Linked DNA regions of Homo sapiens: regions 2 and 3 are each linked to region 1. Evidence: fine-mapped QTL for protein levels in blood plasma. A gene starts in region 1. Each other region holds a variant in brackets. All regions are shown on one strand. Distances are from middle to middle.

Region 1 (2,756 bases):
CAGTTTCTGTTTCCTGACACCAAGGCTTCTCCCCAACTTCCCCATTGGGCTAGAGAAGGAAGAACACAGGGTGACATGGCCAGCTGGAGGTTACTGGCCCACAGATAGGGAGTCAGGGTACGGATGGGCAATTCCTGGAGCAGATTATGGTCAAAATAGTGGAAATCCCCAATCACAGGCCAAATGTTTAATTCTCAGAGCCATAGAATCCATAACTAATGCTTATTGGCTTTGACATGGGCAGTAGAAATTTCACACTTCATTCCTTAATCTGGCTCTAAATGCTTCTGGCTGGAGTGCTCACTCTCCAAACTGTGCTGGACAGCACCAGAAGCCCTCCTGTGGACGGACGAAGTGGTGATGGATGAAGTGGAATTGTGCTGGGGTTAGAGTAAGGAGAGATTATCGTTGGGCTGGGCTGGGGCTGAGGTCAGGGTGATGATCAGGTTGGAATTCTGGAAGCAAATTAAGGCTGGGATTGGGGTGGACATTGAGGTTGAGTGATGGGTGGGGGTAAGGGTGAAGGTTGGAGTTGGGTGCAGGTGATGGTTAAGATACGGTGGAGGCTGGGTTGAGATGAGGATGATAGAGTCGGAGTTGTGGTTAGGGTTGGGATGATGGATGGTTGGGATTAGATGAGATGAGTAAATGGTTAGGGTTGGGGTGCAAGTGAGGTGAGGGTGAGATAAGGTTGGAATAGGGGCTGGGGCTGGGGCTGAGGTAGGGTCAGAGCAGGGTGATGGTCGGGACTGGGATTGGGATGCAGGTTGGAAGGATTTGGGGGTGGTGGAAGGGTTTCAGTTGAGTCCATCTTTGATTAGTGTCTTGGACTTGGGTTGGTTTGGGGTCCACCACTCGCACCCAGATGGAGCCCCCCCCCGACCCCTGCCCCTATCCCGCTCAGCCAGTTTCAGCCCAGCCCCGCTCCTAATGCTCCACTCACCCTCTGGGCCCAGGGACCAGGGACAGGGGTACCTGCTCCACAGAAGGAAGTGGCTGCGGCGGTGCTGGACCTGCGGAGAGGAGAACAGGAAGGACGGCCAAGAGCTCCTGGTGCAGCTGGCTCCCCAGGGCTCTGCCGGCTCAAGAGAGAAGGATCCCGTATCAGGGGCTGCTTCCTCTTTCCCAAAGCCTCAGCTCTACTGTCCAACCCAGAGGCTGGTCAGGGAGGCAGCTGCAGGCCTTGCGCAATGCCAAAACGGGAAAGACCTCCATAGGGGAAGGCCCTCGGCAAGGCCAGGGACTTAGGGACTCCAGCAAGCAGAAGTGGGACCGCTGCAACGCTGGAGCCTCCCCAGGCAAAGTGAGAAATGGAGTGGGGGACTCCCATTCACCAGCCAAATCCACACCCCACTCTCTCTGAGCCCCTTAGGGAGGCTGGGGGAGGTGGAAGGGGGCTTCCTGCACACAGCTCTCCTCCCTGACACCTGAGAGGGAGGCGCGCCCAGCCTGGGGTGGGGATGCACTACACGATGCCCAGACCAAGGCAGTTATTCTCCAAGCCATTCAGGAGCCTCCCTGTACCACTGAGTACTCTTAAGAACCCCCAAGAGGCAGTCCCGTGTTGTGGGGGACATAAGGCCCCAATGTCCAGGACACTCCTCAGGTTTTCTCTTTCCCCTCTCACTGTCCTGTACGTTTTTTGGTTTTTGGCTTCTTGTTGTTGGTTTTTTTCTTTTTGTTTTGTTTTTGCTTTTGAGATGGAGTCTCACTCTGTCGTCCAGGCTGGAGTGCGGTGGCACAATCTCAGCTCACGGCAACCTCCACCTCCCGAGTTCAAGTGATCATCTTGCCTCAGCCTCTCGAGTAGCTGGGATTACAGGCATGCACCACCACATCCGGCTAATTTTTGTATTTTTGGTAGAGACGGGGTTTCACCATGTTGTCCAGGTTGGTCTTGAACTCCTGACCCCAAGTAATCTGCCTGCCTCGGCCTCCCAAAGTTCTGGGATTACAGAGGTGAGCCGCTGCACCCGGCCACTATCCTATACCTTCACCCCCACCTTGGGACAGGAAAGGAAAGCCCCCACCACAGCTAGTTACTGTTACATTACTGCAGCCCATCTTATTGAGGGCCTAGTTTGTGCAGGCACTTGACATGTGAAGCAGATGTTAATTGCTCCAAGCAATCCCAGATACAAGCAACAAGACTTTTTTTGGTTTTTGTTTGTTTGTTTGTTTTTGTTTTTTGAGACAGTGTCTTGCTCTGTCGCCCAGGCTGGGGTGTCCTGGTGCAATCTTGGCTCACTTTGGCTCACTGCAGCTTCGAAATTCTAGGCTTAAGCAATCCTCCTGCTTCAGCCTCCTAAGAAGCCGGGATTACAGGCGCTTGCCACTATGCACGGCTAATTTTTTAAGTTATTTTGTAGAGACGGAGTCTCCCTATGTTCCCAGGCTGGTCTCAAACACCTGGGCTCAAGTGACTCTCCCACCTCGACCTCCCAAAGTGCTGGAACTACAGGCGTAAGCCACCACTCCTGGCCATTTTTTTTTTTAATTTCACAACTCAAACTTAATTCAACTCAGTCCCTGCCTACCTGTACTGGTGGGGAGCTGGCCACAGCAAATTAGGCCCCTGTACCCTGAGGGCAAGGCCACGTGTGCAGGTGTAAAAGGATGTGAAACCCTAAATCAGGGTGGATCCAGAATCGCAGGCCATGGTGCCCCAAAGCAGATGTCTGGTGACATTCCACCCTGAAATGCTCAGGCTACAGAGATATTAGGTCTCTATCACTCTGTTCCTCTTTATAGCTCCT
Region 2 (2,756 bases), 20 kb before region 1:
GCCCCAGTGGGGAGCTCAGCCAGGCAGTGGTACATCCCAGCTTGAGCACGAGCCACGTGGGTGAAGGCGAGAGTGGGCACAGGCTCCGCGTGCAGCCGCCGGTCATTCCAGAACCATGCAAAGGTGGAGTTGCCCACAGGCCCAGGGCCACCCAGGAGGCGGCAGCTGAGGTTCAGGGCAGCGCCCTCAGGCACGTCCAGGCCAGGCTCTGCCACCACGCGTGCACCTGCGGGCGGAGGATAGAGAGATGATTGGGGATCTGTAGGCCTTGGGGGCTGGAGCCTCTGGGTGGGACCTCTGAGGGGCCTCTGCACATTGTGGGAAGGTCTCAGTCTGACTTGGTATAGGGCTTTCCAAGGTGGAACCATGCCCCCTCCAGTGGGAGCTGTGCCCCCTCCACCAGATTAGGCTTCTCAAGGCAGAGCTTTCTCAGACCAGACAGCCCGCTCTAGTGGGAGCTCCAGCCCCTCTCGTGGACTTGGACCTGAGAGCATCAGAGCCCCTCCTCCTCCCCTCTCTTCCACTCACCTTCTACCTGCAACCGCCCGATGGTGCTGATTGAGCCCAGCAAGTTTTGGGCTGTGCAAACATAGGTGTCATCACCTGCAGGCACATCTTGCACCTGCAGCCGTAGGGCGTTTCGGGCCACCTGGACATGGCCTGTCCCTGATGCCAAGCTGTGGACCCCGCTGCTCGTGGCCAGCACCTTGCCATCATGAGATAGGGCCAGCTCAGCAGGTGGCTCACTGTCCACAGTGCACTGTATCACAGCCATGGATCTGGCCCTGGAGTCCCGGAAGGAGGACAGGACAGCGTCCTGAGGGGCATCTGTGGGCAGGCAGGGCACAGATGGGGACCTTGCTTAGGCACCCTGTACTGCTCATTGCCTAGCTGCCTGGGGTTGGTCAGGCTGAGGCCTCTGGACCAATGGCCACTTCCTAGAAGTGACACCTTCCCAGGAGTCCTGTGGGCAGAGTGCTCCAGGCAGGGCTTATAGGACTGTCTCTTTCTCTAGCACCTATGTCCTCTTTCCCCAACTGCCCATTCCTGGGCCCACTGCAGTCCTTTGCCCACTCCCACCAGAGCCCAGAAGCACCCTCCACCACCCTCCTCCTGGGCAGCCCTGGCCAAGGACCCTCTGCTCACAGAGGACTTGCAGGGCAGCAGGACGGGAGCTGCGGGTGCCCTGGGCATCCTGGGCCTGGCAAGAGTAGGCGCCTGCATGAGCCCGCGTGGCCACCAGGAATGAGAGTGAGGCAGCTGGACCCTCCTGCAGCCAACGACCGTTGTGGTACCAAGTATAGAGTGTGGGTGCGTGGGCAGCAGGGTCCGCACAGGTCACTGTGATGGGGGCACCTTCAGGCACGGCAGCCTCCGGAGCCAGGATCACCCGCACACCTGTGCCAAGGAGGCCAGGATCAGCCGGGCCCAGCCGGACACCACAGTGGGCTTCCATCCCAGTGGGCTTGGCCTAGGCCCTGCCTTACCCTCCAGCCGCAGCTCCAGGGACGTGTTGGCCTGGCCCAGAGGGCTGCGGGCAGAGCAGCTGTAGAAACCCTCATCCCTGGGCTGTGGCCCTCGCAGCTCCAGGCGCAGGGTGTTGGGGACAGAGGCTGCTGTC[G/A]AGGAGGCCAAGAGGCGACCGGCGTGGCTGAGGGCCAGCTGGGCGGGCGGGCGGCTGTCCACAGTGCACAGTACCAGGGCCAGCTGCCCGCCATGGCTCTCCAGGAGGTAGGTCAGGCGCAGGTTGCGGGGCGCGTCTGCAGGGCATGAGAGGCTTACACGGAGTCACAGGCAGCAGCCTGCAGGAGGCCAGTTTGCAGGTGGCATTCAAACTCAGGAGGGCCCTGGCTCCCCACCCCTATGGCTCCCAACCACCCAGTCTGAGGCACTGCTCCTCTGCCCAGACAGGACTCACCCCAGCGCCCCCTACTCTTAATGCTCCTTGCCCAGTGCTCCACTAGCTACTGGGTACCGAGTTCCCCACTGGACACCTGTCGGGTTCCGGCCATGCCGTGATCCCTGTGGGCTTCTGTCATTCCTGTGAGTCCCACCCTGCATCCAGCCAGACTCACAGAGGACGTCCAAGGTGATAGGTCTGGAGAGGCGGGGTGCCCGACCAGGGGGGCCCACACCGCAGCGGTAGGAGGTGGCATCCCTGACTGTGACGTTGGGCAGGGGGATGGAGTGGGCATCCAGGCGCTGCTGCCCATCCTGGTACCATGTGTAGGTGAGCTGGGCCGGGTGAGTGGTCCACACAAGGCAGGTCAGGTTCACCAGCTGCCCCTCCCGCACGGTAGCCCCGGGCCACACCTGCACATTCACAGCTGGGGAGAGGGAGGGCACAGGACACCAGTGAGGGTCTTGAGGCTGTGTACAGCAGGCCACCTGTCTCCATGTGGGTGAGCTACTCCTACTGCTGGGGAGCCCCTTGGCCTTTGGGAGCCTTGGGTGGCCCACCTATAAATGTGGCTTAGAAGTCAAGCTTGGGAATAGCCCACTGGCTCCTGAGTGGTCCCAAGTAGAGTTCCACAGAGTCCTGGAAAGCCCTGAGCCCCTCCCTGACCCTGGCTGGGGGCAAATGGGGAGACCACAGACCTCCCCTCCCCTGCTGCACTTTCTCCTGAAATTCCCTGTTTAGTTTTATCCACTGGGCATACTTGTAAAATTTGGTGTTTATAAAAGGTTCTCCTAAGAAACTCAAGTCTGGAGTCCACCATCGTTAGGAAGGGTGGGAATGGGGACTATTCCCGTGCCCC
Region 3 (2,756 bases), 10 kb after region 1:
GATCTCACTACTGTACTCCAGCCTGGGTAATGAGAGTGAGACCCTCTCTCAAAAAAAAAAAAAAAAAAAGAAGAAGAAGAAGAAAACTCCAGAATATATAAAAATGAAAAGAGGGCGGAAGAGTGGAACTGCGGGGTAGAAAATTTTGCATTTTGTTTCATCTCTCTGTATATGTTGAACTTTTTTTTTAACCTACATGTACTACGTCATATCCACAGCCCCCAACCATCCACCAGGCATCAACTGCTGTGTTTATATGGAGGGTTGAGCAATCATTCCTGCCTCCTTCCAGTTCGTCTTCCTGTACTGCAGAGGCTAGAAAACTAAATTTATATCACCCAGATTCCCTTCCAGCTACCTTAATGCTACCACCTCATTCAGCCATCATTGATTCTCCACTTCACCAAACTGGTCAATAATTGTCTCTTCTAAAAATATTAGAATTGGGACTAAGAGACACTACAGCTGACCCTTAAACAACATGGGTTTGAACTGTGCTAGTCTGCTTATACACAGATTTTTAAAAAAATAAACATATTGAAAAAAATTTTGGAGAGATGTGACAATTTGAAAAAACTCACAAACCACATAGCTAGAAATATCAAAAAAAAAAAAACTGAAACAGAGTTAGGTAGGTCAGGAATGCATAAATATATATGTTAATTGGCTGTTTATATTATTAGTAGGGCTTCCAGTCAACAGAAGGCTATTAGTAATTAAGTATTTGAGTCAAAAGTTATACACAGATTTTTGATGATGAGGAGGATTAGTGCCCCCAACCCCCATGTTGTTCAAGGGTTAGCTATATTTGAAATCTGCTGGTAGCTGGAATTGGGCAACTAAATTCACGAGATGTGGAACGGTCGTATACATGGAGAATAAATAAATAAATAAATAAATAAATAAGTATTTGTTGGCCTGGTGCAGTGGCTCATACCTGTAATCCCAACACTTTGGGAGGCCAAGGCAGGCAGATGACTTGAGGTCAGGAGTTCGAGACCAGCCTGGCCAACATGGTGAAATACCGTCTCTACTAAAAATACAAAAATCAGCTGGGCGTGGTGGTGTGCACCTGTAATCCCAGCTGCTTGGGAGGCTGAGGGATGAGAATTGCTTGAACCTGGGAGTCAGAGGTTGCAGTGAGCCGAGATTGCACCACTGCACTCCAGCCTGGGCGAAAGAGTGGGACTCTGTCTCAACAACAACAACAAAAAAGCAATTGTTAAAAGAATAAGAAAACAAGCCACAGATTGGGAGAATATATTTGCAAAACAAATATCTGATGACCCAAAATACACAAAGAACTCTTAAAACCCAACACTAAGAAATCAAACAACCCCATTAAAAAATGGACAAACGGGCCAGGCATGGTGGCGGTGGCTCACATCTGTAATGCCAGCACTTTGGGAGGCCGAGCAGGGCAGATCACCTTAGGTCAGGAGTTCTCAACTAGCCTGGCCAACATAGTGAAACCGTCTCTACTGAAAATACAAAAATTAGCCGACCGTGGTGACGTGCATCTGTGGTCCCAGCTACTTGGGTGTCTGCGGCAGGAAAATAGCTTGAACCAGGGAGGTTGCAATGAGCTAA[G/A]ATCGCGCCACTGCACTCCAGCCTGGGCAACACAGTGAGACTCCGTCTCAAAAAAAAAAAATGGGCAAAAGATGTGAACAGACACCTCATCAAAGAAGATATACAGATGGAAGATAAGCATATGAAAATATGCTTAACCTGATGTCATTAAGGAATTACAAATTGAAGCAACAAGGTACCACTAAACCCCTATTAAAATGGTCAAAATCCAGAATGCTAAAAACACCAAATGCTGGTGAGGATGTGGAGTGACAGGACTCTCATTCGTTGCTGGTGGAAATGTAAAATGGTATGGCCATTTTTAAGACAGTTTGGCAGTTTCTTACAAAACTAAACATAGTCTTACCATACAATCTAACAATTACACTCCTAGATAGTTACCCAATTGAGGTGAAAACTTATATCCAGGGCCGAGCACAGTGGCTCACACCTGTAATCCCATCACTTTGGGAGGCCAAAGAGGAAGGATTGCTTGAGGCCAGGAGTTCTTTCTTTTTATTTATTTATTTATTTATTTTCTTTTGAGACAGAGTTTCGCTCTGTCACCCAGGCTGGAGTGCAGTGGAGTGATCTCATCTCACTGCAATCTCTGCCTCCCGGCTTCAAGCGATTCTCCTGTCTCGGCCTCTGAGTAGCTGCTGGGATTACAGGTGCACGCCACCATGCCCAGCTAATTTTTATATTTTTAGTAGAGACAGGGTTTCACCATGTCAGCTAGACTGGTCTTGAACTCCTGACCTCAAGTGACCTGCCTGCCTCGGTCTCCCAAAGTGCTGGGATTACAGGTGTGAGCTACTGTGCTCAGCCAAGGCCAGGAGTTCCAGACCAGTCCTGGCAACACAGTGATACTCTGTCTCTACAAAAAAAAATTTTTTTAATTAGTCACATGTGGTGGCACACACTTGTAGTGTCAGCTACTGGGGAGGCTGAGGCTGAGGATCACTTGAGCCCCAGGAGTTTGAGGTTGCAGTGAGCCACGATTATGCCTCTGCACTCCAGCGTGGGCAACAGAGTAAGAGAAAGAAAGAGAGAGAGAGAGAGAGAGAGAGGAAGGAAGGAAGGAAGGAGAAAAGAAACGAAAAGAAAAGAAGGAAGGAAGGGAAGGAAGGGAGGGAAGGAAGGGAGGAAGGAAGGAAGAAAGAAAGAAAGGAAAGAAATAAAAAAGG

Direction of the effects. Alleles are on the strand shown, and positions count from the first base shown. The strength of an association depends on the size of the effect and on how common the allele is.
As copies of G replace A in region 2, the plasma level of the protein whose gene starts at base 1,106 in region 1 goes up (moderate association).
In carriers of allele A in region 3, the plasma level of the protein whose gene starts at base 1,106 in region 1 tends to be higher than with G alone (weak association).

The links. PIP is the posterior inclusion probability: the model's chance that the variant is causal. The UK Biobank Pharma Proteomics Project read protein levels with antibody pairs (Olink). The fine-mapping took linkage between variants from a reference panel, not from the people measured, so its PIPs are less certain.
Region 2: its variant is fine-mapped to the plasma level of the SIGLEC1 protein (UK Biobank, PIP above 0.99). The variant lies in the coding sequence of SIGLEC1. If it changes the protein, the assay may bind it differently, which can mimic a change of level.
Region 3: its variant is fine-mapped to the plasma level of the SIGLEC1 protein (UK Biobank, PIP above 0.99).

The regions. Positions count from the first base shown.
Region 1 is chr20:3,711,495-3,714,250 of GRCh38, forward strand. It overlaps SIGLEC1 (sialic acid binding Ig like lectin 1), which reads right to left and starts at 1,106. Exons shown (of 22, transcript NM_023068.4): 1 at 976-1,106.
Region 2 is chr20:3,691,375-3,694,130 of GRCh38, forward strand. SIGLEC1 (sialic acid binding Ig like lectin 1) reads right to left here. Exons shown (of 22, transcript NM_023068.4): 14 at 2,073-2,324; 15 at 1,488-1,757; 16 at 1,147-1,398; 17 at 529-828; 18 at 1-226. Among named protein-coding and RNA genes, the nearest start is that of ADAM33, 11 kb to the left of the region's middle. The variant G/A (reference allele first, on the strand shown) is at 1,622.
Region 3 is chr20:3,721,850-3,724,605 of GRCh38, forward strand. No RefSeq gene overlaps it. Among named protein-coding and RNA genes, the nearest start is that of HSPA12B, 9.5 kb to the right of the region's middle. The variant G/A (reference allele first, on the strand shown) is at 1,591.